4 linked regions of the Homo sapiens genome follow. The protein of the gene in region 1 purifies or fractionates together with the protein of each later gene. This does not show direct contact. Each region holds a gene or a part of one and is shown in the gene's direction. Other genes may lie near its edges. The genes, in order: SPTA1, XRCC2, BRIP1 and ERCC5.

Region 1 (7,918 bases):
TGCAAAGGAGATTTATTCTGTATAGAATTTGATGGTTACAATACTCATCTGAAATTGACCTACAGGCAAAACAGCAACTGCAAATTCAAGAAATTTCTGACAAACCATGTGATTTTTGATATTTTGGGACATTAAGAAGGGAAATAGGGTGAAGAGTCATCAATGCTTCTGAAGCAACTGTCCTCCACTCTTCTCAGAAATATAAGAGTTAACCAGGTTAACTAAAATCCAATTTAGTTAACCTGGTTAACTCAATTGCTATTCATGGCTCTTAAGTTTTTCCTAAAATGTTGTTCATGGGTCTCAAGTTCTAATGAGAGGTTTCAGTAGAAGTTTGGTGAAAGCTCCTACGCGTTTCTGATCACCTAAAATTATAGCATGTGATACCTGTTCTCTACTCTTCTCAGAGAGATGAGTTAACCAGAGTTTTTTTTTTTTCTTCCCTAAATTGCTATTCATGGCTCTTAACTTCAAAAGAGAGGTTTCAGTAGAAGAAATTTGGTGAAAGTGCCTACCCCTTTCTATTCACCTAAAATTATAGCATGTGGTGTTGTCATAATCAGAAGCAATTGATGTTGGACAGGAAACACCTAGAACAAGAGCAAAATAATGTGCTATATTGAATGGATCAATTTATAGATTACAAGAACAGGCACAGCATGCAAAAAAAACTCTCAATTTTTTTTTTTAAAAACCATTATTATAACTATCATCTTTCTCATTGTGCTCTACTTCCAAAAAAAAATCAGTTATTCCTCTTTTCTGATGAGGAAGGACACTGTGTGTTACACTCTTTTATTCCTATGGCAGTCTATTGAGCCTTTAAAATAAGGCTCGGCATAGATCATAAGGCTCAGCATAGCTCAGGACAGTATTTACTGAAAACTTCCTAAAGCCAGTGGGGACAGGAAAATACTCTTTATGGCCTCTGAGTCTGGGACCCTTTGAGAACCTGTGTTTGGTGGCTTTACATAGAGTGAACATTTCCCATGAAGACTGTGCTTCATTAGACAAAAACTCTGATTTCTAAACTTTAGGGGAAATATCAGAAGCATCAATCCCTTGAAGCAGAGGTGCAAACAAAATCAAGACTCATGTCTGAACTGGAAAAAACAAGGGAAGAACGATTTACCATGGGTCATTCTGCCCACGAAGAAACGAAGGTATATGTATGGGCCCTTGAAGAAGTTTCCAATTATTGATTATGTTATCAGGGTTTTAACTGATTATATGAGATATAAACCTTGAGTGGCTGGCTTATACCCAGGACTCCTGCCTCTTATCTTCCCCTGGGGTTGAGGCATAAAAAATGATGGGATATCTTCGTGTTTCTTGGGGTGAAGAGAGCTGTGATATTAAAGCTGTCATTAAATGGCATAAAATTCCTCCTATAACAGTGCAGGATAATTTGGCTCAAGATCAAGCCCACTTAAACCTGTTCCACATTATCCAGATCAATTAGTTTTTTCCAATGTTCTTTCTAATTATTTCCTCTAACCTCAATGTCCTTGTCTCTTAACTTCTCCAAATAAGGAATGCTCTCTCATTTGAATGTTTTCCAAAATATTTTTCCTTTGTCTATGATGCCTCTTTCTTTTCATACACCATACCCTATGACTACTATTGCACCTCTCCAAACTGTCCCTTCTTATTACTTCTAAAAACTCCCAAATGTCATGTAGTCAGAAAATTTTCTCTGAACATCTAGAAATGAAGATCATCACTATTTCAATAAGGATTCATACTCTGTAATCTATTATTAATGTAACAGCTATTTTTGGACTTAATCTACGAACTCTTCCAAATGTTTGTGCTAATATTGTCAATTCAATTTTTTTGTGTGTGAGTGAACTTTTTACTGTTTATGTATTTTTTTAATTGTCAAAACAAATTTGCATTATATATCTTAAAACTGGGTCTGGCCTTTCTATATATAGCATAAAAATTCTAGCCCATTCTGTCATCAAAATATGGTCAACGGACACAGATTTTAGCCAGAATAGAATCTTATTTTAAAGAAGAACCCATAAAAGGAAAATTTCAAAACTTGTTTATTTGTATAAAGTATAATTAACTTTTGTATTATGCACAGTTTTGCATGTAACCAGCATCTACATTAATTACAATATTTGAGAAATGTTTGAAACATCTTCATTTCTGTCAGAATCACTGGGGCTATAGCAAATGGTACCATTGCGGGGTTTAACGACATATGTGGTCCACATGCTACCCAGAGCAATGGAGTAGTTGAAAAATATAAGATTCTTGAAGATATGACATAGGTGGCAATTTCAGTTATATAAGACAGGTAATACATAATGTTCTGAGTTAATCTGGCATTCAAAGCCCTCTGTAGATTCTCAAACTGTATAGTCCCAAAACACTGTTATTGTTTCGGTGCCAATGATTTCCTTATAACTTATAAAAATTATAGCTCTCACACTTTCTGGCAGACAATTCATGCTAAGTTTCTCCTATGCCTTTGCTATTGCTGTTTGCTCTTCTTAGAACATGTTATGCTTATGATTGACCTGTCAAAAATCTTTCTGCTCCATAAGGCTCAGTTCAAATGAACACTTTTCCATGCTTTCTTCCTCCTTCCCATCTTATTGTTTGTAATTATTCCATCCTTTAAAACTGCAAAGCATTTTTACAAATTGTTCTCTTATGTAAGATCGCATTTGGCTTGGCTTGTTAGCTATTTCCATATATCTATCCTATTTCCTCTTTTAAATGTTTGTTGAGCAACTAATGCATGAGTAACTGAGAGAAGAATTTTTATCCAGGTCTCTTTCTGCACAAGTCTCTGAGTGTTTCCCTGCTCCCAGTGTCTGTGGCTGAGTGGTTTTGCCCCTCTTTCCTAAAGGCCCATATAGAGGAGCTACGCCACCTGTGGGACCTGCTGTTAGAGCTGACCCTGGAGAAGGGTGACCAGTTGCTGCGGGCCCTGAAGTTCCAGCAGTATGTACAGGAGTGTGCTGACATCTTAGAGTGGATTGGAGACAAGGTATCGAACTTAAAACAGCAATCACACAGGGCCTCCCACTCCTCTGTCCCAGGTACCCCATAGCAAATTACTGCAGACTACTCACAAGGAAGTCAGGATGTCTGTTCCTGGCTTTGTTCTTTGGAACAAGAGGAAATTGGGGCCAAAATGTAGGGGTATCTGGAGGTCAACATTGTATGGAAGTAAGTCTTAACATATGGATCTGAATATGAAAAAGGCAAGACTTACACAAAGACCATGCATTGAAAGATAATTAGGCTCATCTCTCTTCCACTTCCATGATTTTTAACTCCTTCTCCTATGTTTTTGCTCTTACTCTGGGGTCTGGCTGAGAGTATTGACAGCTCTTTCTCTAATCCTTTGTGTCTCAGTGCCTATAAAGATGGAGGGTTTTATTTTTCTAAATACTAAAGGAATAATTTAATAGTTAGGACTAAAGATTTAGATAAGCAAATGCCTAACAAAATACTTTCGTAGATACTGATATGTTGAATTGAGTAGAAACAGGATGAATTTATCCCTCATGTTTCAAAACACAAAAGGGTACTTTCAGGGTCTCTTGCCAGTAATGCCACAAACTTGCTAAAGAACTGCCCGAAAGAGCACTTTCCCTTGTGCCAAGGTGCTACCTTAACAAATATACTTCTGCTGCTGGCCTTTTCCAGGAGAGCTTCTCCCAGTCTCCCCCAGTATCTCCATTTGAGTTATCCTGGGAATGCAAGCAGGAGTTTTGAGTTTTTGACCTACAGAAACTCCTAAATGTTTGCTGGCAACTCAATCAACTTCTGTGTCTACAGGAGGCTATAGCGACATCAGTGGAGCTAGGTGAAGACTGGGAGCGCACCGAAGTTCTGCATAAGAAATTTGAAGACTTCCAAGTGGAGCTGGTAGCTAAAGAAGGGAGAGTTGTTGAAGTGAACCAATATGCCAATGAGTGTGCCGAGGTGAGGTGGGAGCAAAATATTCACTCCGTGCAAAGGGTTCTTATCCTTAAGAATAACTTCTGGCCATTAGTAGATGGATATGAAGGAGATGGGGCATTGTGAGAAAACAGAGGTTGGCATGTTCCTGGAGTAACATATTCTGAACAGTTTCCTCTCCCCTCTGGACCCACCCCTTACAAGTCTATTGAAATGGAGGGTTGAGAGAGAAAGAGAGAGTGTGTTTTTGTGTGTTTGGAGAAATTAAATACACAATGGGCAGTGAAGCTATTGCCATTTATATAGTAGCTTCTGTACCATGCAGTACACTGATTACTCATGTTAATGGGGCACTCTTTCTTCATGAAAAAACACAAAAATAAAGTAGCAGAGCATATAAAATAATGTTGAGCTATCATTATTTATACATATATATGCATATGTAATATCATTATACAAGATTATTTCGGAGGATTGAGGAAGGAAAGGAAGCGGTTTTACTTTTATTTACTTAAGAAAATACTTAAGTTTGTGATGTGTATATATATATAAGTTTACATGTATATGTAAGTATATAGATGTAAAATAAATAAACTCCAACAGTTGGCTATATTTTGCTTTTCCATTTATAGTTTCATTATGATTGCAGCTCTATAGTGAGAATGATTTTCCTGACTTAATAAAAAGAAGACTTCAGAATGAATGAGTGCTGGAGTAGGAAAAATAACCTATGTTTTCCTATTTTTCTTTCAGGCCATATTTCCAGTAGTTTCTAAATTTTCTACCTCCATCACTTTTCTCTTGCTGTGGAAGTTTTTCATTTATCTATTACTGTCTAACCAATCAACAAACTTAACATCTTACTTGTTAATGACTCTGTGAATCAGATGATTGAGCTGCTCTGCTGGGCTGTTTTCCTGATCTTACCTGGCATTTTTATGTGTCTGAAGTGATCAGGTGGCTCAGCTGGGGTGAAGGATCTAAGGTGGCCTCAATCCCATGTCTAGGGCCCTGGTGAGGATGATTTGGGAGGATTGAGGAGATCTCTGGGTGACCTCTCATCATGCAGTAGACCATGCTTCTTACATACCAGTGTTACAAGAGTGTGAGAATAGAAAATGAAAGTTTTCTTGAGGCCTAGGTGCTGGAACTCATAGAAAATTACTTCTGCTACTTTCTATCAGTAAGCAAGTTAAAGACCATCCAAGATCCAAGACTTGAGGAAACATACTCTACCTTTTGAAGGGATGAGCAGCAAAATAGCATGCGATTTTTTCCAATCTATCATAGAAAGAATAAATCCAACACAGCTAGGTTATATTCTGTGCTCTCGAGTGGGGCCTACACTGCTGTAATAGAAAGAACCATGTACTTGAGAAGGAGAATGGAGAAAATTCTGTCTGGAGAGACTTGGGAATGGGAATGAAAATGGAGAGAAACAGGGACAGGAAGAGTAAGGAGACTTAGGCATATGGGAATGCCTCAAAATTGCAAAGTATGAAAATAGACTGATGCTTCCAGCTTAATCTAGTATTCACAGATCTCACTACTTTGGATGGTTTGCAAAAATGCCTGAAATTTTATGCAAAATCATACGTGAAAGCACGTGTCTATAATTCTGGGAAGAGAAAAATAGCTTTTATTGGATTCTCAAAGGTGTGAGGACCACAAAAAAGTTAAGACCCACAGCACTAGTCTTTGAGAAAATTAAGTTGTATTTCATAAAAGGAATTTCCTCTTCTTTTCCTTGGTTTCCAGGATTTCAAGGAGATCTCAAGCATTGACAAGGTGGAGCTCTAAAAATAACATCAGGGCTGGGCAACCTGTGCTAATAGGCTAGTCCACTGCTGTGGGCACAGATGCAACATCTGGCAGGTTGTTTTTCTAGGTTTTGGTAGTGTGCATCAAGTTGGAGCTAGGGAGGAGGGCTATGATGAAGTTCAGTGTCTGGCTACAATGGTCAGTTTTCACTTCTGTAAAAGTATGAACTAATGTAAAATGAAAAGTGTTTGAATAATTTTTTAAATATAATCTCATCTCTGTATAACTCCAGTGTTGTTTTCCTTCAACAGGAAAACCATCCTGACCTACCCTTAATTCAGTCTAAGCAAAATGAGGTGAATGCTGCCTGGGAGCGCCTTCGTGGTTTGGCTCTCCAGAGACAGAAAGCTCTGTCCAATGCTGCAAACTTACAACGATTCAAAAGGTATGGATCTGGCCACTGCTTTATAGAAAACTTTGAAGTGCTTTATAAAAACCGTGTCTTTGTATTAGGCTCTTTCTACTTCTGTTAGCAATTAATGGTCAACACTTCAAACAAAAGTGGATCATGTACTTGCCTTTGGGACAGCAAAGGAGAAGGTAAAGAAATCTGTGACCTACTCTATGGCCAAGGATGTAGAGATTGGAGATCAAAATAACTAAAAAAGTAGCATTGGTAATTTAGGAATGGAAGCGCTGCAGACGGAAGGGAAGCAGGTTAATAATTAAATGGAAGGTGGAGTTAGGAAGAAGAAAAGCATTCGTAAGGAGCTGACCCAGATATGGAACATATCTCTAGAGGCTCAGCTGTCAAGAAGCCCAGGACCTTAACATCTCAATAGAAATAACCATTAAGTAAGAACATTTTATATTACTTTTTGCTAGTATGTAGGAAGAAAGGATAATTGCTCCTGGGTCAACTAGGATGGTCCTTGCTGTGAGTTCTGTTGGACCGTTTGCCCTGTAATGCTTGCTATCTTCTTTGGTTGGAGCTCTTGTTAATGACTGCAGGGATGTGACTGAAGCCATCCAGTGGATCAAGGAGAAGGAACCTGTACTCACCTCTGAGGACTATGGCAAAGACCTTGTTGCCTCTGAAGGACTGTTTCACAGTCACAAGGGACTTGAGAGAAATCTTGCTGTCATGAGTGACAAGGTAATGCGCTGTTAGAGAAATGGCTAACCCGTTGAGCTAGAAGAGGCAATTGTTGATTATCTTGCCTATTACCGTGCCTCCAGAGAGCACAATAAGTTCACTGTTTTCAATGAAGAAGAAATTGTGTGCACTTGAATACGCTTCTTCATTCTAGTTCATAACTCGTATGTGGATACTGGATATACCTTATTTTCATTTGAATTATTTTTATTTAAATATACACATATGTTTTATATTCTCTTGTGTTTTCCTAACTTATTTCACAATTTAAAAACAAAACAAATATACCTTCAAGGTTGATTCCTAATCTCACTGAGTAAAATACACCGTGGCCAGACTCTACCCTTTCATCTAACCACATTTTGTTCTGTTGCAGCTGAATCCTGATTCTTTTTGTACTCAGTAGATCAGAAAAACATTGTCTTCTCCTTTTAAAATAAACTTCAAGACACTTAATGCTAAACCTACCTTTAGGTTTCCTTTTAAAACCTGGAAAACCTCAGGCACACTAGAACTTAGAACAAGCCTATTTTCTTAAATGATTTCCATCCTTTACTTCTTCCCCTCACAAATGTAGCCAGAACGTAAACCAATTACTACTGAGAGTGCACAGGGGAGTCAGCCCACAGAAAGATCCACATTTGCTGTAATTTAATTTTAGGCCTGTCCCTGTGTCCAGTTTCTGCAAACTTCCACCATTCTACTTTTTCTTTCATTCTTCCTTTTTGTTGTTGTTGTTGTTTTTGGTCTTTTTCCCTAATAATGAATAATAAAACCCATAAGTTGACAAATAATGGTATGGAAATTCCAATCCCTAGACATCATCTGATTATAGTTGAGTATGATGAAAGGGCTAATAACATGTGAAAACCCACCCATATCCACATTTTGCCCTAGTAACCCTGCTCCTCAGAGGTTGTGCTGAAAATTATCCAGCATTACTGAAATTTTCTTGGCCTTGTGGACAGAAATGTCTTTCTGCCTCCCACAGTAATATTTAGGGAAATGTTATAGAGGGGTGGGGAAGGAAAAACTTAGTTTGGAACCTTGCTCCTGACATTTTCTAGCTGAATG
Region 2 (7,918 bases), on another chromosome or scaffold:
GAGATCCCGCCACTGCACTCCAGCCTGGGCGACAGAGCGAGACTCCGTCTCAAAAAAAAAAAAAAAAAAAAAAAAATGCAAATAAAAGGTGACTTTCTTCCCATTTGTGATAGATTTTTTTTTCTTTTGTCATATAGAAGGGTTGTCAAATCTGTGCTGATTCCCAAGAAACTTGAGAATCAGTTTTGTCTCCCTTGTGACAGTTAAATCCTTCACCGAGATTGCCCCCTGTGATCCTAATGACTTCCGTCATGGTGCAGACACTCCTCCTCCAGACTAGGGTGACAAACCCCAGCCCTCTCTCCACGTATGGTTTTAACTCTCCTCACATCTGTCCCCTAGTAACCACCAAGATGATCTGTTTGAAATGCAGATAGGCTGGGCGCGGTGGCTCACGCCTGTAATCCCAGCAGATTGGGAGGCCGATGGGAGCGGATCATTTGAGGTCAGGAGTTTGAAACCAGCCTGCCCCAACATGGTGAAACCTTGTCTCTACTAAAAATACAAAAATTAGCCGGGCGTGGTGGTGGGTGCCTGTAATCCCAGCTACTCAGGAGGCTGAGGCAGGAGAATCACTTGAGCCCAGAAGGCAGAGGTTACAGTGAGCAGAGATCGCACCACTGAACTCCAGCCTGGGCGACAGGGCAAGACTCCGCCTCAAAAAAGAAAAAGAAGTGGATAATATGCCAGGTACTCTTTTCACATATTTAATCCTCATCAGCCTTATGAGGGAGGGTGCTGTTTGTTATCCTCACTTGACAGATGAGAAGCCTAAGGACCTCAGTGACCTAGCAGGTCTGGCTCTGGGGTCCCAAATGTCTACTCTTAACTATGTTCTAAATACTTCTCAGTGCTTAGTGTCACACCTGTTGGCTGTTGTCTACAAGCCAAAGATAAGCTCCCAAACATGGCGTCTGAGCCCTTCCATGCTCTGACTTCTGCTCTCTTGTAGGGCTTCCCTGGGTCCTGCCTGTTTGGTGCTGTTACAGTATCTAGGAGTTCAAAGCTGCTCACAGTGTCCCTATGCACAATGCTATTTATAACCTCTGCACTGTGGCTGCTCCTGTTTCTGTTAGCAGGTCTACTAGGCCTGCCTGTGCCCCATTCACCTGGCAGTCTTACTTAGGAGAGAGCCCAGGTGGTGGCTCCTCAAGGAAGTTCTCCTCCACCTTTCTCCTTTGTCCCCTTCCCCAGTGAAATAAAGAGCTCACAATGAATGGGGCAGACAAATGAAGGCAGATAACTGTGTAACAAGTGTGGTAAGAATTAACTGTGTGAAAGTTAATTACAAGGAAGGTAAAAATTTTGCCATAGCAGTTTGTCTTATATCCTAAACTAGACTATCCATTCCTTTGAGGGTACAGACTCATTTTATACTGTCAGTATTTGGTAGATAAACAAAAAGTAAAATATCTGAAAAATAAGTAAACACAACATTTCTCCTAAACTATATTTCCTATTTCATATTTTCTTCCAAATCCACAAAATTATGAAAAAAATTTTTTTTGAGATAGGGCCTCACTCTGTCACCCAGGCTGCAACCTCTGCCTCTTTGACTCAAGTGATCTTCCCACCTCAGCCTCCTCAGTAGCTGGGATTACAGTGTGTGCCACCATGCCCAGATAATTTTTGTATTTTTTGTAGAGTCAGGTTTCACCATGTCGCCCAGGCTGGTCTGAAACTGGACTCAAGCGATCTGCCCACCTTGGCCTCCCAAAGTATTGGGATTACAGGTGTGAGCCACAGCACCCAGCCTAAAGTTATGAAATCTTACAGACTTTCGGAAAATGGTATAAATATAGATGTCTAGGATTTTATATTTTTAAATAATGAGTTTTCCTTCTCTCTTCTTTTATAAGCTCCTTGCCCGACTTGAAGGTAGAAGTTCCTTGAAAGAAATAGAACCAAATCTGTTTGCTGATGAAGATTCACCTGTGCATGGTAAAAAATACAACCTTTATATAAATAAATGCAAATCTTTATAAAAGGATTTTTCACATAAGCTCACATGTATACACATACTCCTCACAAGAGTTTATACAGGTTAAACTGTACAATTGGAAAATGAGACACAGGTTGTGACAGAAAGCTTTTAAGCTTTCCTCATCGGTGTCAGACAAGTTTGCTTCTCTGCAGTAAATCTTCAGAATATGCCTTGACCTCTGTCTTATTCTCAACACACAATATTTATGCAAGTCCTGTTATTATAGTTTATGTTGAAATTCCTTTTCTTTAGAAGCTTGCGGAGTTGTAGGGAAGTCCTTGGGTACCCACTTGTTAGTATTTCTACAACAGGGAAAACTTACTAAGGGCGTGCGCTTAGGTTGATTTTTTTTCTTTTAATGTGGCGGCTTCATAGAGATAAAATTCACCCACCGAAGTGTGCAGTTAAGTGATTTTTAGGTTATTACACAGTTGTGCAACCGTTACCACAGCTGACTTTAGAGCATTTTATCTCCCCGTAAAGAAGCTCATTTCTAGTAATCATCATCTCCCATGTTCCCCAGCTCTAGGCAACTACTAATCTACTTTCTAACTATGGATTTGCCTTTTCTGGACATTTCATATAATTGGAATCATGTAATATGTGATCTTCTGTGACTGGCCTCTTTTACTTTGAATAATTTGCACTGAATTGTATAATTCAGTGTCACCATTTCATAACACGTATCAGTAGTTCATTCTTTGTTAAATATTTCATTGCATGAGTGTACATGTTGCTTATCCATTTGTTAGCTGATGGACATTTGGGTTGTTTCCATTTGCTGGCTGTTGTGCATAATGCTGCTGTGGTTATCTGTGTACATGTTTTTCTGTGGATAGATGTCTTCAGTTCTATCGGATAATACCTAGGATAGGCATTGCTAGGTCATATGGCAATTCTACATTTAACCTTTTGAGAAACTGCCAGACTGTTTTCCAAAGGAGCTTCACATTTTACTTGCACCATCATTGCATTGCCAGCAATTCCCATATTCTGGGAATAATTGTTATTGTCTGTCTTTTTGATAATAGCCATCCTAGTCAGTATGAAGTGTTATCTCTTTGTGGTTTTTGATTTACATTGTCCTCACGGCCAATGATGTTGGGTATCTTTGCACAGGCTTATTGGCAAATTGTATATCTTTGAAGAAACGTCAGATCCTTTGCTCATTTAAAAAATCAGGTTATAGCCGAGCGCAGTGGCTCACACCTGTAATCCCAGCACTTTAGGAGTCTTAGGCAGGCAGATCACGAGGTCAGGAGTTTGAGACCAGCCTGGCCAATATGGTGAAACCCCCATCTCTACTAAAAATGAAGTATCCAACTGTTATTGTTGAATTGTCTGTTTCTCTCCTGAGTTTTATCATTTTTTGCTTTTGTATTTTGGGGCTTCATGTATTGTTAAGCACATATAACTTTTTATTTTGTCTTATTGCTGGCTGACCCATTTATCATTATAAAATGTTCTTCTTTGTCACCTCACATCCATTAGGAAGGCTACTATCAAAAAAAAAACAGGAAATAGCAAGTGTTAGCAAGGATGTGGAGAAATTGTAACCCTTTTGCACTGTTGGTAAGATTGTAAAATGGTGCGACCATTATGGAAAACAGTATGGAGGTTCCTCAAACAATTAAAAATAGAGCTACCATATGATCACATAATCTCACTTCTGGGTATTCATCCAAAAGAATTGAAAGTAGGATCTTGGAGAAATATTTGCACACTCTTGTTTATAGCAGCACTATTCACAATAGCTAAGAGGTAAAACCAACCTAAATGTCCATCAATGTGCTTATAATGAATCCCTGGGGGGAAAAGTATCCATCAATGGTTGAGTGGTGTATACAAAATGTGATATATACATGCAGTTGATATTATTCAGCCTTACAAAGGAAGAGAATTCTGTCACGTGCTACAACGTGGATGAACCTTGAGGACATTGGTAAATGAAATAGGCCAGACACAAAAAGACAAACTGCTTGATTCCACTTATATGCAGTTTCTAAGGTAGTTAAATTCACAGAAAAGAAAGTAAAATGGTAGTTACCAGGAGCTGGGGAGGCGGGGGAAGGGAGTCATTGTTTAATGGGTGCAAAATGGGAGTTTTGCAAGATGGAAAAGTTGTGGAGTTCTGCTTCATTGCTTTGCAGCAATGTCAATGTACTTCACACTGCTGAGCTGTACACTTAAAAATGGTTAAAGTAGGGACCAGGCACGGTGGCTCACACCTGTAATCCCAGCACTTTGGGAGGCCAAGGTAGGTGGATCACCTGAGGTCTGGAGTTGGAGACCAGCCTGGCCGACATGGTGAAACCCCGTCTCTACTAAAAATAGAAAAAATTAGCCAGGCGTGGTGGCAGGCGCCTGCAGTCCCAGCTACTCGGGAGGCTGAGGCAGGAGAATGGCATGAACCCGGGAGGGATTCAGTGAGCTTGCAGTGAGCCAAGATTGTGCCACTGCACTCCAGCCTGGGCGACAGAGTGAGACTCCGCCTCAAAAAAAAAAAAGAAAAAGAAAAAGAAAAATTACCCAGGTGTGATGGCTCATGCCTGTAATCCCAGCTACTTGAGAGGTCAAGACAGGAGAATCACTTGAACCTGGGAGGTGGAAGTTGCAATGAGCCGAGATTGCGCCACTTCACTCCAGCCTGGGTGACAGAGCAAGACTCCGTCTCAAAAAGAAAAAGAAAAAAAAAAACAAAGACAAAAAGTTTATGATTGCATTTTGCTGTCTGTTTTTTATATATGTCTTATGTCTTTTCTGTTTCTTTCTCCTTTACTGTTTTCTTTTGTGTTAAATATTTTCTAATGTACCATTTTAATTCCCTTGTCATTGTTTTCACTATATTTTTCTGAATTATTTTTCTAGTGATTGCCCTGGGATTACAAGTAAGATCATAATTTCTAACAGTCTAGTTGGATTAATACAAACTTAATTTCCATATTTTGTAAAAAGCTTTGTTTACTGTATAGGTATTCCCTACATCTTTATACATTGTATGGTCATCAGCACATTTAATATTATTACTGAATTAAAGTAATTAAAATGATCACTTAAGAATACTTTCTGGCCAGGTGCGGTGGCTCACACCTGTAATCCAGCACTTTGGGAGGCTGAGGTCTGTGGATCACCTGAGGTCAGAAGTTCAAGGCCAGCCTGGCCAACATGGTGAAACCTCATCTCTACAAAAATTAGCTGGGCATGATGGCGGGTGCCTGTAATCCCAGCTACTCGGGGGGCTGAGACAGGAGAATTGCTTGGACCTGGGAGGCAGAGGTTGCAGTGAGCCGAGATTGCACCACTGCACTCCAGCCTGGGCAACAGAGCAAGACTGTCGCAAAAACAACTTCCTTCTTAAATCAGATAGATGAAAAAACAGTTACAAATACAAAAACACGTTTATACTATCTTTTTTTTTTTTTTAGATGGAGTCTCACTCTGTCGCCCAGGATGGAGTGAAGTGGTGTGATCTCGGCTCACTGCAACCTCCTCCTCCTGGGTTCAAGTGATTCTCCTGCCTCAGCCTCCCCAGTACCTGGGACTACAGGTGTGTGCTACCACACCTGGCTAATTTTTTGTTTTTAGTAGAGACGGGGTTTCACCACGTTGGCCAGGCTGCTCTTGAACTCCTGACCTCAGGTGATTCGCCCACCTTGGCCTCCCAAAGTGTTGGGATTACAGAGGTGAGCCACCATACCTGGCCTGTACTGTCTTTTATATTTGCCTAGATAGTTACATTTCCCTGTGCTCTTTATTTTCTCATTTGGATTTCAGGAACTGTGTCCTTTCATTCAGCCTGCAGGACTCCCTTTAGTATTTTTTGTACAGCAGATTTGCTAACCAAAATTCTCCATAATAAAACACAAATTTTGATCAAATATGTAAGACAAAAAACAGAATGGTCTTTGTACTCTCTCTGTAAGGAAGGATATTATTAAGGTGAGCCTTATGAAACTGACAATATGTTAAAATGGGTTTGTGGAACAACTTCTACATTAGAATATTATATTATAGAAACGTTGAAAAACACCATCATGTTCAGTAACTAACAAAAAAGTTTACTGAAAACTACTGAAGATCCTATAGCTGTAAAACTAGTTAGATGAGTATTCCATTGGAACAATAGCAGATAGAAGACTGGGATTATAAAGATTATTTATCAACAATAGAAGTTTATCAGAGCTTGTTACAGAAAAGCTTAAGTTGAAGTAGTAAGATTTAGGGGTTATAGAGTCTCAATGCCATTGTAAACTTTTTTTTTGAGATAGAGTCTTGCTCTGTCTCATCTGTATTTTTAGTAGAGATGGGGTTTCACCATATTGGCCAGGCTGGTCTCGAACACCCAACCTCAGGGAATCCACCCACCTTGGCCTCCCAAAATGCTGGGATTACAGGTGTGAGCCACTGCACCCATCCGAACATTTTTTAAAATTTATTTTAATTTAATTTTAAATTCTAGGATACATGTGTAGAACGTGAAGGTTTGTTATATAGATAAACGCGTGCCATGGTGGTTGGCTGCGCCTATCAACCCATCACCTAGGTTACTTGTCCTGGCTATTTGTCCTGACGCGCTCCCTCCCCTCATGCCTTCAGCAGGCCCCGGTGTCTGTTGTTCCCCTCCCTGTGTCCATGTGTTCTCATCCAAACATTTATTTTTATTTTTGTTTTGTTTTGTTTTGACACAGAGTCTCACTCTGTCACCCAGGCTGGAGTGCAGCTCGATCTCGGCTCACTGCAACCTCAGCCTCCCAAATAGCTGGAATTACAGGCAGATGCTACCATGCCCAGCAAATTTTTTGTATTTTTAGTAGAGACAGGGTTCCAACATGTTGGCCAGGCTGGTCTTGAACTCCTGACCTCAAGTGATCCACCTGTGTCAGCCTCCCAAAGTGCTGAGATTACAGGCATGAGCCATTGTGCCCAGTGCCAAACTTTTCTTTTTGAGACAGGGTCTCACTCTTGTTGCCCAGGCTGGAGTGCAGTGGCGCCGTGACGGCTCGCTGCAGCCTCGACCAACCCCCGGGCTCAGGTGATCCTCGCACCTCTGCCTCCTGAATAGCTGGGACCACAGATGTGTGCCACCACACCAGACTAATTTTTGTGTATTTTGTAGAGATGGAGTTTTGCCATGTTGCCCAGGATGGTCTTGAACTCCTGGGCTCAAGCCATCTGCCCACCTCAGCCTCCCAAAGTGCTGGGATTATGGGCGTGAACCACCACGCCCAACCTGTAAACATATTTTTAATGCTTTTTTGGATAGGAGTTATTCAGTACCATGTACCAATTCATTACTTCTTTACTTCTATAATGATTATAATCTGCAAATTCAACATATTTGTTATATAATTGGTAGGCTGGTACCAAGATGATAGCTTTTTTGGCTTTTCCTTTCTTTTCCTTATTTTGAAGGATCTTTAGATTCAGAACTCTTTCTGACAATCTGTTACCCAAACTCCTTACAGCGTTCTATTTGTAAGAGGAACTGTCAAGGCCAAATCATCCAGATTTTCTGATTTAGTTTAATATCTTCAAGTGCCAAACCTTAGGGATTTTTTTACTGCGAGTTGTCACGTTCCATAATTTGGCTGGACAAGGATGCTGTAGCAGCCACAGAAACATATGAGACGGTGACTTCAAGTACATTGAAAAGGATGATGTCCCTTCTGTAGGACATAATATTTGATTACAGGTTTTGATCTTGAGGATCAAACAGTAAATGTTTATAAAATCAGTAAAACTGATTTCAGTTCATCATTAAACATATTTGTGAGGAATTTAGTTCAAGGACCTTAATGATAATTCATGTGTCTCTTGCAAGTTTGCAGTGTCTTCCCGGTTGTTATAAAAGCCTTTTTTATACCTGCTTTGCTATTAATGTGTAAAAGAAAAAGAGTATCTCTTAGGCAGGGATTTAACCTTCAACTTCTTTGC
Region 3 (7,863 bases), on another chromosome or scaffold:
GGCTTTGCCACTTACTAGCTTTGTGATCATGAGCAAGTCATTTGTCCTTTTTGAGTCGTAATAGGAAAAAAAAAATGCCTGCCTAGCTATCCCTTCAGGTTGGGTTGTAAAGGTCAAAATTATAAATATCACAGCATTGTAAAGTACCATGTAAGTGGTAGATGTTATTCTAAAGGCTATATAAAAATTTGGCCTAATTTTTATGTAGATACTTCTATATGAACTACTTTTCCTATATAGATAGTTCTTATGAACTTATTTTTAGGAGGTGAGAGACATTTATTTTAAGTGATGAAAAATAATATTTTAAAATATTTTGAAATAATCATCTGTATCAGATTGGCAAACTGTGGCCCATGGGCCAAATTTGGCCTGCTGCCTGTTTTTGTAAATAAAGTTTAATGAAATGTAGTCATGCCCATTTATTTACATTTTAGAAACAACAGCAGAGTTGAGTATTTGTGTGTATTGCACTAGAACAGCATAATTGAGTAGTCGCAACAGATACATTATGCTCCACAAAGCCTAAATATTACTATCTGGCCTATGACAGAAAAGGTTTGCCAAACTCTGGTCTATTCCATTGGATATAATTTCAGTTGTTTTAATTCATATATCCAAGGCGGGTGGATCATCCGAGGTCAGGAGTCCGAGACCAGCCTGACCAGTGTGGTGAAACACCGTCTCTACTAAAAAAATACAAAAATTAGCTGGGTGTGGAGGCAGCTGTCTGTAATCCCAGCTACTCAGGAGGCTGAGGCAGGAGAATTGCTTGAACTGGGAGGTGGAGGTTGCAGTGAGCCAGGATTGCGCCATTGCACTCCAGCCTGGGCAACAAAAGCAAAACTCGGACTAAAAAAAAGAAAAACATCAATTTTTAAACATGTATTTTGTAGTATATAAGTACTACAAAATAGTAATACAATTTTGTATATAAATACTACAAAATAGTAATACAAAATTCACTATAAATAGTGAATTCAAGCCGATTAACTTGGTAATCAGGAAACCTAGTTTCTAGTCTTGGTCTTCTTACTAACCAGTTTTATAACTTTGAGCAAATAACTTAGCCTTATGTCACTTTCCTTATTTATTAAATAAAAGAATTAGTCTAGGTAAGTTTTTCTCAGTCACTGGTTAGTGGATTTTCAAGGCAAATGTTTACAGCCTGTTCCCTCCTTTCCTCAGCTCCCTTCCTCTTCCCTTTTACCCCTTCTTTCCTCATTCATTCTTGAGCTCCCTGCTGTGGAATTTGATAGTTTACCAGACAGCATTATAACTTGGGCTAGGAAACATTAGAGACCTAAGATTTCTTTCAGAGTTAATATTCTGTTCCAAGATGAAAATCCACTAGTATTCGTTGGGGGCTCTAAGTTATGTATCCTATACAGTTATTTAGGTATTTCTAATAAATAATTATTTTAACCTAGCAATTATGTTAGCTAGGAGCAGAAAGTTAAATCTCTTAAATTCTTGTATTCTTAGATGATCCAGTATTCCTGGAAGAAGCAGGGAAAGCAGAAAAAATTGTGATTTCCAGATCCACAAGCCCAACTTTCAACAAACAAACAAAGAGAGTTAGCTGGTCAAGCTTTAATTCTTTGGGACAGTATTTTACTGGTAAAATACCGAAGGCAACACCTGAGCTCGGGTCATCAGAGAATAGTGCCTCTAGTCCTCCCCGTTTCAAAACAGAGAAGATGGAAAGTAAAACTGTTTTGCCCTTCACTGATAAATGTGAATCCTCAAATCTGACAGTAAACACATCGTTTGGATCATGCCCTCAATCAGAAACCATTATTTCATCATTAAAGATTGATGCCACCCTTACTAGAAAAAATCATTCTGAACATCCGCTCTGTTCTGAAGAAGCCCTGGATCCAGACATTGAATTGTCTCTAGTAAGTGAAGAAGATAAACAGTCCACTTCAAATAGAGATTTTGAAACAGAAGCAGAAGATGAATCTATCTATTTTACACCTGAACTTTATGATCCTGAAGATACAGATGAAGAAAAAAATGACCTAGCTGAAACTGATAGAGGAAATAGATTGGCTAACAATTCAGATTGCATTTTAGCTAAAGACCTTTTTGAAATTAGAACTATAAAAGAAGTAGATTCAGCCAGAGAAGTGAAAGCTGAGGATTGCATAGATACAAAGTTGAATGGAATTCTGCATATTGAAGAAAGTAAAATTGATGACATTGATGGTAATGTAAAAACAACTTGGATAAATGAACTGGAACTGGGAAAAACTCATGAAATAGAAATAAAGAACTTTAAACCATCTCCTTCCAAAAATAAAGGCATGTTTCCTGGTTTTAAGTAATAATACTTAACTCTCAAGCTAAGTAAAAATATGTCATCATGCTTATGTTAAACTCTGTTGTAAGTAATAATTTGTAAATTGAATAAGTGGCATACTTTTTAAAAAACTATTTTATGTTCAGAAATGTAAATGTTATTATTCTTGAGTTTTTGGGTTTTTTTTTTTGAGACAGAGTCTTGGTCTGTTGCCCAGGCTGGAATGCAGTGGTGTGCTCTGGGCTCACTGCAACCTTCACCTCCAGGTTCAAGTGATTCTCCTGCCTCAGCCTTCTGAGTAGCTGGGACTACAGGTGTGCACCACCATGCCCAGCTAGTTTTTGTATTTTTAGTAGAGATGGGGTTTCACCATGTTGGCCAGGCTGGTCTCGAACTCCTGGCCTCGTGATCTGCCCTTCTCTGCCTCCCTAAGTTGCTGGGATTACAGGTGTGAGCCACAGTGCCTGGCCCATTCTTGAGTTTTGATAAAGTAATTCATACAAAGTACTGTCCTCAAATAAGTCTTCCTTAGCTAAATGCAATTTAAAATTATTCAAAGATCCTAGGGCACTTCTAGTTTCACGTAAATATTCATATTAGGTGGTTCTCTTCATCCATTTGTTTTCACACTGATACATAAAAATTAACAGCAGTCTAATCTAGTGACACCTCAGTCATATTTCGCTATAGATTTTACCTCAAATCAGTCCAAGACTTTTTCAGAGATCACCATTTGTCTTGAAAGGTTTATTTCGTTATTAAACTGCCTACTTATAAGTAATTAAGAGAAATTAAGAAAGTAGTATGCATTTTTAATTGAAATTGTTTTACATTCTTTGTATAATAAACCTAAAACCAAACATGTCATAAACAAATTGACGTAAAGATATAAAATGCCAAATGAAGTATTCCAAATTTTCTATTCTAATTATTTAGCTTCACCATCATTGTGGAAAAAAATACTAGATCCTGCTTAGTATTATATATTTTTCCTAGTGGATCAGTGAGTAATAAGTACCAAACACTAGACTAGAAGGTAATTTCTACATTGTTTAGAAAGGGTGAAACAATTTATCCCCTCTGGTATTGTTCTAGCATAAGCTTTAGTTATACAATGATTAAGATAGAAAACTTCATATATAAATTTGATAAGCAAACCCACATTTATAGCTGCAGCTAAAATATGTTTCCTTAGGGCACAGTAATCCTTTCTGTGAATTTTGACCTTGTTTGTGTTTTTGTGAATGAAGCTATATGTCTAATCAAAAATGATTATAAAAGAGGCTCATCTCTGACATCATTCCAAAAATACATTCATTGATCTCTTTTTAAGAAACATCTGTTATTCACTGGGCATTGGGACTTTTTGTGAGTAATTTGAATTGAAATTTTATGAGCTATCCAAGAATTCTGTATGGTCTATTATTTTCAAGTCAAAATTTCCAGTAAGGATTTACTTTACATTTCATTTGGATAAATGAATCATTATATAGGTATGTCTTTGCTTCCATTTTGAGACATTTAGATTTTTACAGCCTGTTTCTATAGCATTTGATGTTACAACTCTAAGCGTAGTTCAAAGACATTTAAATTGACAAGTTACCAGTTAAAGAATTTAGAATATATTAGATCCCATCTAGTATTATATATTTTTTCTAGTTGATCATTGAGCAGTAAATACCAAATACTCGATTAGAAGGTAATTTTTACATTGTTTTGAAAGGGTGAAACAATTTATCTCCTCTGGTATTATTCTTAAACCACAGATAGGGATAGTAGGGTAGTGAAACGAATAAATACCTGGTAGAAGACAAGAGACTTGGGCTCTACACCTGGCTCTGCCACTGATTTGCTAAGTCATATTGGCAATCACCACACCCTTCAGGGAATTAGTTTCATCTGTAAAATGCAGCGGTTAGTACTATAAAATCATACAAATTTCTTTGTGCTTTGAGAATCTATAAAGGAATGTCTGTTGATATTCTGAGTCGATTTTCATTTGCTTTTGTTCCAGAACGGTTAAAATAAAGCATATTATTTCATTTAAAAAGTAAAGTGGCTCTTACTCATTTACATTTAGGGAACGATGGTGACGTGGTTTGGCTATGTCCCCAGCCAGATCTCATCTTGAATTGTAGTTCCCATAATCCCGACGTGTTGTGGGAAGGACCCAGTGGGAGGTAATTGAATCGTGGGGGCGGTTACCCTCATGCGGTTCTCGTGATACTGAGTTCTTATGAGACCTGATGATTTTATAAGGAGCTTTTCCCTGCTTCACTCTCATTCTTCTCTCCTGCTGCCCTGTGAAAAGTTGCCTTCCGCCATGATTGTAAGTTTCTTGAGGCCTCCTCAGTCATGCAGAACTGTGAGTCAATTAAACCTCTTTCCTTTATAAATTACCCAGTCTTGGGTATGACTTTATTAGCAGCATGAGAACAGACTGACACAGATGGTATATGTGCATAATAACTTGGAAAGCTAGATATTTATTTTCGCAATGCTACAATTAAAACATTTTGAGGACTTTTAAAATTACCTTTAGGGCCAGGCGCGGTGGCTCACGCCTGTAATCCCAGCACTTTGGGAGGCCGAGGCGGGCGGATCACGAGGTCAGGAGATCGAGACCATCCTGGTTAACACGGTGAAACCCCGTCTCTACTAAAAATACAAAAAATTAGCCAGGCGTGGTGGCGGGCGCCTGTAGTCCCAGCTACTCAGGAGGCTGAGGCAGGAGAATGGCGTGAACCCGGGAGGTGGAGCTTGCAGTGAGCCGAGATTGCGCCACTGCACTCCAGCCTGGGCGACAGAGCGGGACTCCGTCTCAAAAAAAAAAAAAAAAAGAAATTACCTTTAGAATTGGTAAACTACATGAGAAAATTAAGCATATTATTCATATCTTAGTGTTATTACCCAACTTCATCTCCAATACTTTCCCCTTTCCCTAGCTAGATATGTTTTTGTTTGTTTGTTTTAGACAGTCTTGCTCTGTCGCTCAGGCTGGAGTGCAAAGGCACGATCTTGGCTCACTGCAACCTCTGCCTCGCAGGTTAAAGCGATTCTCATGTCTCAGCCTCCTGCGTAGCTGGGATTACAGGTGTACACCACTGCACCCAGCTAATTTTTTTTTTTTTTTTTTTTTAAGTATCGACAGGGTTTCACCATGTTGGCCAGGCTGGTCTCAAACTCCTGACCTCAAGTGATCTGCCCACCTCGGCCTCCCAAAGTGTTGGGATTACAGGCGTGAGCCACCATGCCTGGCCTAGATATTTTTTATTCTTTCCAAAATTTAATTCTCCCTGAAGTTAAAAATTTTCATTACTGAGAATGTACATAGAGATGTGTCACAACCCTTTAGTAATTCCAAAAGGTGTTTCAAAAATTTTATACAATGATAATCACTGTTGAAACAGGTGTATATTCTCCTCAGATCATGACTGACCAAGATGATATTCCAAGAAGTAAACTACTGGCCTTTATAGAGTAGGATGTAGGCCATTTTCATTACTGATAACATACTTTTAAAAGAAATGTTTACAGATTTAAATAAGTTAAAACATCTAAATGCTTTTAAAAGAGCACCTGGCACATTGCAAGTTATTCATTATTAATTAGTAGATGAATCATATATCTGGAGTGCACCCTTGCTCTATATGAAAGCTTCCCTAACTATAGATATATAGGTGATAGACTGACAATAAAGATTTGAGGAAAGAAAAATTATTTGGCTGGCTTATTTTTTAAGCTTTTGAGATGTATAAGGTAGAGATTGTTTATCAAATAATTTATGTGACACATTCAATGCATATGAAATAATTATCTAATACTGAATTTATTCAAGGACTGAAAGTATATAGAGCACACAGGCTGCAAACCAGGAAAACTACCAGTTAGAGACAGGGCTTTATTCTTGGAATAAAGGTACAATGTAAAGAGTAGATGTTTCATGACTTGATTAAATTATTTAAAACTGTCTAGAATTGTGTTATAAAACTATTACTATGTTTCTATGCACTTAGTTATTACATGGGTTTAAATTTGGCACTGTTTCTAAGTTTCTATAAGGCTTTGTTGTTAAGATCTTTCTATTCAAAACATTAATTTTAACAAAAAGCTTTTCCCCGTTATTTTTCTGCAACTGGACTTTTTTGTATTACTTTCCTATATTAAAACGCATTTAAAATATTTAATTCTTTAGGGCTGCTTACAAAATTTCATGAAATCAAAGCACCTGTTGTCAAATCACTTGAAAGGCTGGTTATCATGGTCATCTCTAAGTGATGGCATTCTTTTGTATTTGATTACCACACAATTATTCTCGCATATGCTCTTTTAAACGCTGATTTCTCAATGAGTTACACAAGAATTTAACCTTTATGAATTCTTGGTGGTTTATTATCTATTTCCATAGGTAAATGCAGTTAATCTTTTGTAAATAGATAGTATTGATGATAATCAAAAAAAATTTTAAGACCAGATCAAGCAATGAATGTAAGAAAGCTAAAACCTTAACGTAAAATAACTGCAGAGCTATGAAAAATACAATAAAGAACATCAGGAAATAGAAATTTGGAAAAGTGACCAAGGCTTATGATCCTCTAGCCTTAAACAATTTTCATGTCTCAAAAAAAAAAAAAAAGAATTTTGTTTCTTAAGTTTCATTTGATAGAACCATTAGCTGCCTGGCTTCCTGTACTCCACAATGGAGCCTTGTTATAATATACATGGGATCTGAGCCAGCAGATCACCTTATTGGTAAGACTACCTTATAATGAGGTGCTTTCAGTAACTAAACCCTCTTGGACCAGGTCCAAAACAACCCATCTTACACCAAATTCCACTCTGTAATAAACAAGCGTCAATGTATTGGAAAGAAAACAAAAGCTATATGAAATTTACTGTTCCCAGAAATTAACCTTTGAAAACCCAATGGTAAATACTGATTAAAAGGAATGTGTAACAAGGCATAATTAGATAGATATTTTAGTACATTTTATAATAACTTTGTATTTTCTTGGCTCAGTCTTCCTTTATTCGGGAATTTATATTATTTTGATTATCTTAACGCTTTCCCCAAAATTTCATCATTTCACATGAAAATATTTTACATTAATATTTATAGAATTCAATATTAAAGTTTGATTTGGCTCCTTGCTATTATAAAACACAAAATTGTACAAGAGGCATACCATTTCTGTAAACTAGGTGCCATTATCTTTTATATATGATTCACATATAGTTGAAAAGTTTTAAAAGTATTTAGTACTGTTTGTTATTATTTTAGATGCAGTATTGTCTTCGTATATTTTCCCTGTTTTTCTTTTTTTTCCTGTATTTTTATTTTTTTAATTAATTTATTTTTATTATACTTTAAGTTCTAGGGTATATGTGCACAACGTGCAGGTTTGTTACATAGGTATACATGTGCCATGCTGGTTTGCTGCACCCATCAACTCATCATTTACATTAGGTATTACTCCTAAGCTATCCCTCCCCCAGACCCCCACCCCCAGACAGGCCCCAGTGTGTGATGTTCCCCACCCTGTGTCCAAGTGTTCTCA
Region 4 (7,650 bases), on another chromosome or scaffold:
AAGATATCTGAAACTTGTTTTTATTCCAGTTAACCTTTTTTCATAGTCACAAGTCTTTGATGTCCTAAAGTGAGAGCTAAATATGTTTTATTTTATAGAATTGAAAAGAACATAGTGCCAGATGATTATGCTGGAGTCATTTATTTTGTTAGTACTTTCTTTTAGCACTCTAATCTTTATAAATAGGAAAATCTTAGGAGATACAGGGAATGGAATCAAGAATGGGTTCTTTGGACCTTTTTATTTGTCACTTGTTTAAATATCTTTCAAAATATTTATAAGTCTTAACTGCATGCATATTTTGTCAGCGGTATTTCGGCTGGAACAGAACGAAGACAGATGAATCTCTGTTTCCTGTATTAAAGCAACTCGATGCCCAGCAGGTAATCATGGTGGACCCTTCTCCTAAGTTCAGGATGAAGGGTAGGCTGTGGTTGACAGCTGTTAAAGACCAGTTAACTCTTATTTTGGGGCATAGAGCAGACATTTTGAAATTAGGATAATTTAGATGAGAGAATAGAAGAAAATAGAAAAAGAAAAGTTAGACTTTGGCTTCATTTTCTATGATCACTCTTAGGGCTGAACTTTGGAGTCCTTTCATATTCATTTTTTTCTTTGAAAAAACCAGTCTAATAACTGATTTCACACTAAGGTGTTTCTGATTAAATACATTACCCCTTGGGATTTACTTTCATTTTTTAACGAAAGGAAGTCTTCAAAGCAATTCTGATCATTTAAGTTTTTATAAGTACTAATATTTTTAAATTCTATAAACGAATCTTGAAAGGTAGAAGTTCAGTCATTATTGTGTATCAGTAGGAGAGGTTTTTGTGGGAAGGAGCCCTTTTGTATGACCTTTAGTTCCTCTAGGTACCTACTTCTTGCTTTATCTGTGAGTATGTTCTGACTCACACAAAACAAGCTTTCGCCCACACTAGAAACAACCCACAAAACATACATACAAATAAACCACTTAGCAGAAATGAGAATGTAGCTTTTGTGATAATATATTTAAATTAAACCCATTTTCATTAGGCTTGGATAATTTTGAAAAACATGAACAAAACTAAGACAGCATTTCTATGAGTTTCTCTTTGTTTTTTGGATGACTATCTACTGGAAACATTATAAACCAACCAAAAAGGAAAGCTATTTGTCTTAGTGTCTGGTGATTTCTTAATTTCAGATAAATTTTGTTGTAATATTTATCTCCTTTTTCATTCTAAAACTTAATGTGTTTATTTTTCCAAAATTAGAAAATGAAGAAAATGAATTAAAACTACTCATTAGTTACCTCCTCTAATACAGTTGTTAACATTTAGGTTAAAAAATTTTCCTGCATTTATTTGTGGCCATACTAAATGTAACTTAATAGATCTAATCCTCCCCCCCAACTTATTAGCATATTTTCTTCTATGTATTGTGTGGTTTTCTTAATTCCAGATGACTAGATTATATTTCATGAAAGATATTTAAATAATTAGTTCAGTTTACTTGTTAGACCTTTAATTTTCAAGTTTGTTATAGTAATGCTGTGATGAACATTAGGCATATAGCTTTACCCATATATTTTTTTTTTGAGACGGAGTCTCACTCTGTCTCCCAGGCTGGAGTGCAGTGGTGAGAACTCGGCTCACTGCAAGCTCCGCCTCCCGGGTTCACGCCATTCTCCTGCCTCAGCCTCCCGAGTAGCTGGGACTACAGGCGCCCGCCACCACGCCTGGCTAATGTTTTGTATTTTTTTAGTAGAGACGGGGTTTCACCGTGTAAGCCAGAATGGTCTCGATCTGACCTCGTGATCCACCCACCTCGGCCTCCCAGAGTGCTGGGGTTACAGGCGTGAGCCACCATGCCCGGCCAAAGAATATCTTCTTAAAAGTGAATTTACTGAATAAAAGGCATGAATATTTCTTACAGTTGCTAATATATACTGTGAACTTGCCTCTCAAAGGTATTGTATGATGATAATGTTTTTAAAAGAAAGATATAGTAGGACTTAGAAACAGGCCCCATGAAGTCGTGTTGCTCCTGAGGAAGATGAAATGTTTAGCTACAGAAAAATATTTAACGCTCTTTGAATATCTTAGGAAGAGATTTCTCATTTGAGATGTGGACTAAAGACTTAGTTGACAGAGATGGTACAAGTACTGCTTTAGGTATGATTTAGAAAGTGAAAATTACTGTCAGTAATTCACTGGGAGAGAACTGGGTTTTGGGAGATAATGAATTAATATTCTCTGACATAGTAATCCAATGTGAGTGATCAAGGTTGAGCTTGTTGATTTGGTTTAGAAACTTGACTTACTTGTCTGATTTATTATTATTATTCTTTTGTTATTTTTTTAGACACAGCTCCGAATTGATTCCTTCTTTAGATTAGCACAACAGGAGAAAGAAGATGCTAAACGTATTAAGAGCCAGAGACTAAACAGAGCTGTGACATGTATGCTAAGGAAAGAGAAAGAAGCAGCAGCCAGCGAAATAGAAGCAGTTTCTGTTGCCATGGAGAAAGAATTTGAGCTACTTGATAAGGCAAAAGGAAAAACCCAGAAGAGAGGCATAACAAATACCTTAGAAGAGTCATCAAGCCTGAAAAGAAAGAGGCTTTCAGATTCTAAAGGAAAGAATACATGCGGTGGATTTTTGGGGGAGACCTGCCTCTCAGAATCATCTGATGGATCTTCAAGTGAAGATGCTGAAAGTTCATCTTTAATGAATGTACAAAGGAGAACAGCTGCGAAAGAGCCAAAAACCAGTGCTTCAGATTCGCAGAACTCAGTGAAGGAAGCTCCCGTGAAGAATGGAGGTGCGACCACCAGCAGCTCTAGTGATAGTGATGACGATGGAGGGAAAGAGAAGATGGTCCTCGTGACCGCCAGATCTGTGTTTGGGAAGAAAAGAAGGAAACTAAGACGTGCGAGGGGAAGAAAAAGGAAAACCTAATTAAAAAATATGTATCCTCTATAATTAGTTATGACAGCCATTTGTAATGAATTTGTCGCAAAGACGTAATAAAATTAACTGGTGGCACGGTCTTTGTATTTAGTGTGTGGTTCCTAAAAACAAATGCTAAATCTGACATTTGTTTTTTAATGTTTTACTTTTCTAGTATTTTTTAGCTGAATATTTCAAGTATCATTGGATATTATCTTGTATTCACAGGCTTTGTCTTTTCATGTTTTCATTATCTTAACAATGTCTGATCCTTCCTGGTCACATGTTAAAAAAGCGAAAAAGATTTCTATTGATCAGCACTCACTCTCAATAGGCTTTCCCTCTGACATTCAGACGTAGCTGAGAAGAAATACGTGCATGTTTCTAATTCCACAATAGTGGCAGTTTTACACAACTGTTTAGCCCTGCTGCCCACGGCTTTGCATTTTCCCTCAGGTTCCACTTAAAAGCATAGCAGGAGGGAGCCTCACTGCTGGAACATATTTCAATATGTTTGCTGTGGTTTTAGCAAACAATTAGGAAACCTAAATGGGGTGCATCATTCTACCTGTGAACATTAAGTGTATGGGAACCTCTGTACCGTTATGTTTGGCTTTTAAACCAGACTTCACTTATTAGAAGCTGACTTCTGTGTAAATGGATTTGGAGGCTGGGGGCTGGAGTTGAACTGGTGTAGGTGGGTCAGCTTTAGGAGTGGCCTGCAGGGGATGATTGTTGTTGACACAGTGTTTGTTCAGAGTGGACAAAGAAGGTTATTTTAAGACTGCTCCTGTGGAGACGTCTCCCAAGAACAACCCCCAAGCTCCTATTTGCTTCGAGTTAAGAATGATTGGAGGAGAGTACTACCAATTACTTTGAGCGTGGGTCCTCTGCCTTCAGAGCTACCTTCCCAAGTCTGTGTCCTTTTGGCATCTTTAGTATTTCCATCTTTCCTGACTTTTTCCTTCAGCCTTCAAATTGAAAATCTTCACCAATGAAAACAAAATCCAAATAGATAATCTCCAGCAGTCTTTGAACGACTCCTAGATGTGTTGTTTTTTAGGCTCTCATTTATATTGACTTGGCCAGCCAAACTTCTCCAGTACTTGGACTACAGCAGCTGCTTTTCTTTGCACACTATTTTTTCCTAATTTCAAATACGTCTTCTGCATCCATCATTCTTCTCTAGCAGCTCCTTCTAAAGTCAACAATGATTTCCACATAAACTCAAATCTTTTCTTCATGCTTCTTTTCTCTGGAGGTACTTGGAGCAGAACATTTTTGGAGGCAAGGGGAGGGGAAAATTAACTTTTTCGTGTTTTTCTCATTTCTCAGAATTACTTGTCACTGGGAGTTTTCTGCATATATATTTGCAGGTAGAATAATTGTCTTGCTAACAAATTTAATTTGATGCCTTTAATAGATATTTACATTTGTTTTTCACTGCGTTAGCTTTGGGAAAGGATAAGCTACTGTAACAAAAGATGCTCATATACAGTGGTCTGAATAAGCTAGAACATTACTTCTCTCTTACTCAACAGTCTGGCCAGTCTGAGCTGGTGAAGCAGTTGTGCACCATGAGGTCATGCAGTCCTGTGTTCAGCCAACCCCTAGGGTGCTATCTTGCCTGAGTGGTCTATACTGGGTGATTACTTCATCTGCATTGCATCCTGCCAGAAGGGGAAAGAACCAAAGTCCAGGGCAAGCAGAAGGGGAAATGGATGGTCAGGACCATGAGAAACCTGTTCTGTAACACTATTTATATGAGAGTTTGATATTGTATCTTCTTTTTCTCTTAACCCTGTGACCAAGACATAATGCTTTTACAAGGGGAGAAACACGTTTAGAGACATTAACCAGTTTTGCCAAATTCACCCATGTAGTAGGTAAAACTTCTCACCTGAACCAAAATCTTCTAACTCAAAATTCCAGGGTGCTATTTTACCTATGAAAGAGGTTGCCTGTTTAAAATAATCAGCAGCTGAACAAATTCTTTATTATTCACATCAAGTTGGTGTACCTAGAGCTTATTTAGGATGATGACCATCATACGCCTTTTCGATTATCTTCCAGCTCATTAATATTTTGTTTAGCTTTATCTATACTTGCTGTTAAACCCATATATTGAGTATTTTATTTCATTGATTGTTATTTTTCAGTTTTATTTGACTCTTTTTTTTTTTCAATTTGACTCATTTTTATAGATTCCAGTTCCCTGGTGTACTTCTTGTCATCTGTTTTTGAGTATCTTAATCACAGTTACTTTAAAGTCTGTCGAATAACTCCAATATCTAAGTCACCTATGAGTTTATTTCTATTGTCTGTTTCTTGGTATGCATGGGTAAATTTTAACTGAATGTTGGACAGTCTATGGGAAAAATTATAGGTACCCTGTACCTTCCTCTAGAGAGGATTCCAGAATGTATTTGGACAGGCAGCAGAGGGGAAGATCACCTCAGTGCAGCCAGCGAGGACAAAGTAGATTGAAGGCTAGTTTGCAGTTTTTTCTGTAAGACTCCAGCTTCTAGTTTCACCCGTATTCCAGGAAAGTCACTTTCCAGGAGTGCCCTGATGTTTCTTCTTTTGCGCTTGGATCTGCTTTTGCCACTGAATGCTTCAAAAATTAGCCTCTTGCCCTAAACAGCTTAATCAGTCAATTCTTCGACTGAATAGTCAGCACTAAGCGTCAGGCTTCTCTCTCCCTTTTTTCTGGGATCTTGGGCCCACAAATCTGACTGTCTTGGCAGCCACACTCTTCTTTTGTCTCCACAGTTCTGTGAGATTGCCTGATGCTCCGCTGCTATCCTTACATGCGGTCTTCTCTTTGGCTTCCTCAGGAAACAGCAATGCCTGGAATTCTTGGCTGCCTTGACAGCTCTCTGATACTTTATAACAGAGGCATGTTTGTGTGGGGTGTGTGTGTGTGTTTAAAAATCTATTTTTCTCATTGTTAATAGAAGCTGAGGTTTGCTATAAGCTACTTACAGCTGGAGGCAGAAGTCTGTATGTATTTGTTAAACAGTCATGTTGGTTAAGATGCTTGATTGAGGGATTCTGCCTCTTAAGAGATCTAACAGTGAGGATTGCATGATCTTTCAAAAAAATCCTTAAAAAAGACAATGGTTTTTATTCGTCATTTATTTTGTTTTTAAAAAAGCCCCAAAGAAAGAGTATCCTCTGCCCCAAGTTAACTGCCTATGAATAATAGTTCACATTGCTTAGGATTTTGAACTTTCCAGAATGTTTTTACCTATAATATTCACCCCACAAATATATGTTGTATGACTTTTGTATCATTTTTAAAAGACATTTATATTTTTTTGAGATAGGGTCTTGCTCTGCTACCCAGGCGGGAGTTTGGTGGTGTGACCACGGCTCACTGCAGCCTCCATTTCCTGGGCTGAGTGGTCCTCCTGCCTTGGTCTCCCAAAGGCTAAGGCACCCTGCCGATATATACTTGTTCTATAGATGATGAAACCAAGAAACATACTAAGTAAATGGCTTAAAATCACAATCTAATTATAGGCAGGAATAACTAAAATCAGGCTTCCCAACTCCTAGCCCTTTCCAATACATTAAAGTGACCTCGATTCATCTGTGTATACATTATGGACCTGTAGTCACACTCCTAAGTTTAACTTTCCAATATTGCTTTATCTTAACTCTGTAACTTTCTATCAGGGATCTTTCCAGTGGCATGGGAAATGTGTATGTCCTCTGAGAGGCACACATACATGCACTTGGGCAGGTGCACAGATGGATCTATGTTCGGAGCCTGCCCATTCAGTCTGAATAAAAAGGAATCATGGTAGTTTGATTTCTGGGTGCAGAGCAATGCTACAGACATTCTAGTATGGTTGTTGGAGTCTAAAGACAGTGTTCCCATGCAGATAGGTGACATGAAAAATATGTAGCGTTCATTTCCTAGAATGTCATAGCCACGGAGTCTTAGAATAACTCTTGGCATCCAAGTTAAAAGCTGGATCACTTCCTCCAAATAGTCTTCACTCACTTCCGGGAGTGGGTTGTATTCACCTTTAGCTCTGTTCACGAGACACTCGTGGGATATTCCTAGCCTTCTGCCCCCTTAGTTACGGGCATTGCCGTCTCACTGCTGTATAACCAGAGGCGTGGGAGCTGCAGCTGTCAGAATCCTAATCCCTTCTGCCTGGACTCGTTACCAGTGGTAGCGAGTGTGTATAGTAGTAAACTGTGCTGCGATGCTAGCCTTTCAGTCACTACCAGAGGTCCCAGCAGCAAAAACAAAAATTGTGGATGATACATTTTAACCTTCTAGAAACTCAGCTAACTCCTTTAGGTATGTCCAGGCTTTCCATTTAAATATCAGCCTTAAGGCAGACATGTCTTTCTTTAATGGAAGAGATCTAAATTGGGAGCAAAACATGTGACCACTTTTGCTATCGTTTTAGCTGTGTAGCCTCAATGACATAATTTAACCTTGGTTTTCCTGATTTGCAAACTGTAGGGAAAATAATGTCTTCTAACTTGCTGAAGTATGCTGTAAAAGAAAATGTGGTGGCTGTAAAATGTGCTTTGGGATTCTCGGAAGAAAGGAGTGCTATATTAATTCATGGTACTGCAATTGTTATTTTACCCCAGATTGAGAAGTAAAATATCAAATCGTTATTTTCTAAAGTTTGAATAACTGTTAAATTTATTCAGATAATCTGCTCTATTCAAGAGGCATAAATAGTT

The links.
Region 2: the proteins of SPTA1 (region 1) and XRCC2 purify together in Homo sapiens (affinity purification with western blotting, with the first as the bait; one study listed by BioGRID). This does not show direct contact.
Region 3: the proteins of SPTA1 (region 1) and BRIP1 purify together in Homo sapiens (affinity purification with western blotting; one study listed by BioGRID). This does not show direct contact.
Region 4: the proteins of SPTA1 (region 1) and ERCC5 purify together in Homo sapiens (affinity purification with western blotting, with the first as the bait; one study listed by BioGRID). This does not show direct contact.

Annotation. Positions count from the first base shown.
Region 1 is NC_000001.11:158,676,616-158,684,533, reverse strand, and holds part of SPTA1 (spectrin alpha chain, erythrocytic 1), read left to right. Parts: intron 1-1,037; coding exon 1,038-1,163; intron 1,164-2,866; coding exon 2,867-3,007; intron 3,008-3,804; coding exon 3,805-3,951; intron 3,952-5,999; coding exon 6,000-6,133; intron 6,134-6,699; coding exon 6,700-6,844; intron 6,845-7,918.
Region 2 is NC_000007.14:152,654,724-152,662,641, reverse strand, and holds part of XRCC2 (DNA repair protein XRCC2), read left to right. Parts: intron 1-1,859; coding exon 1,860-1,941; intron 1,942-7,918. UniProt on the Homo sapiens protein: Involved in the homologous recombination repair (HRR) pathway of double-stranded DNA, thought to repair chromosomal fragmentation, translocations and deletions. Part of the RAD51 paralog protein complex BCDX2 which acts in the BRCA1-BRCA2-dependent HR pathway.
Region 3 is NC_000017.11:61,677,763-61,685,625, reverse strand, and holds the end of BRIP1 (Fanconi anemia group J protein), read left to right. Parts: intron 1-1,485; coding exon 1,486-2,330; 3' UTR 2,331-6,487; downstream 6,488-7,863. UniProt on the Homo sapiens protein: DNA-dependent ATPase and 5'-3' DNA helicase required for the maintenance of chromosomal stability. Acts late in the Fanconi anemia pathway, after FANCD2 ubiquitination.
Region 4 is NC_000013.11:102,872,961-102,880,610, forward strand, and holds the end of ERCC5 (DNA excision repair protein ERCC-5), read left to right. Parts: intron 1-298; coding exon 299-383; intron 384-2,346; coding exon 2,347-2,943; 3' UTR 2,944-3,035; downstream 3,036-7,650. Other genes in the region: BIVM-ERCC5 protein, read left to right, coding at 299-383, 2,347-2,943. UniProt on the Homo sapiens protein: Single-stranded structure-specific DNA endonuclease involved in DNA excision repair. Makes the 3'incision in DNA nucleotide excision repair (NER).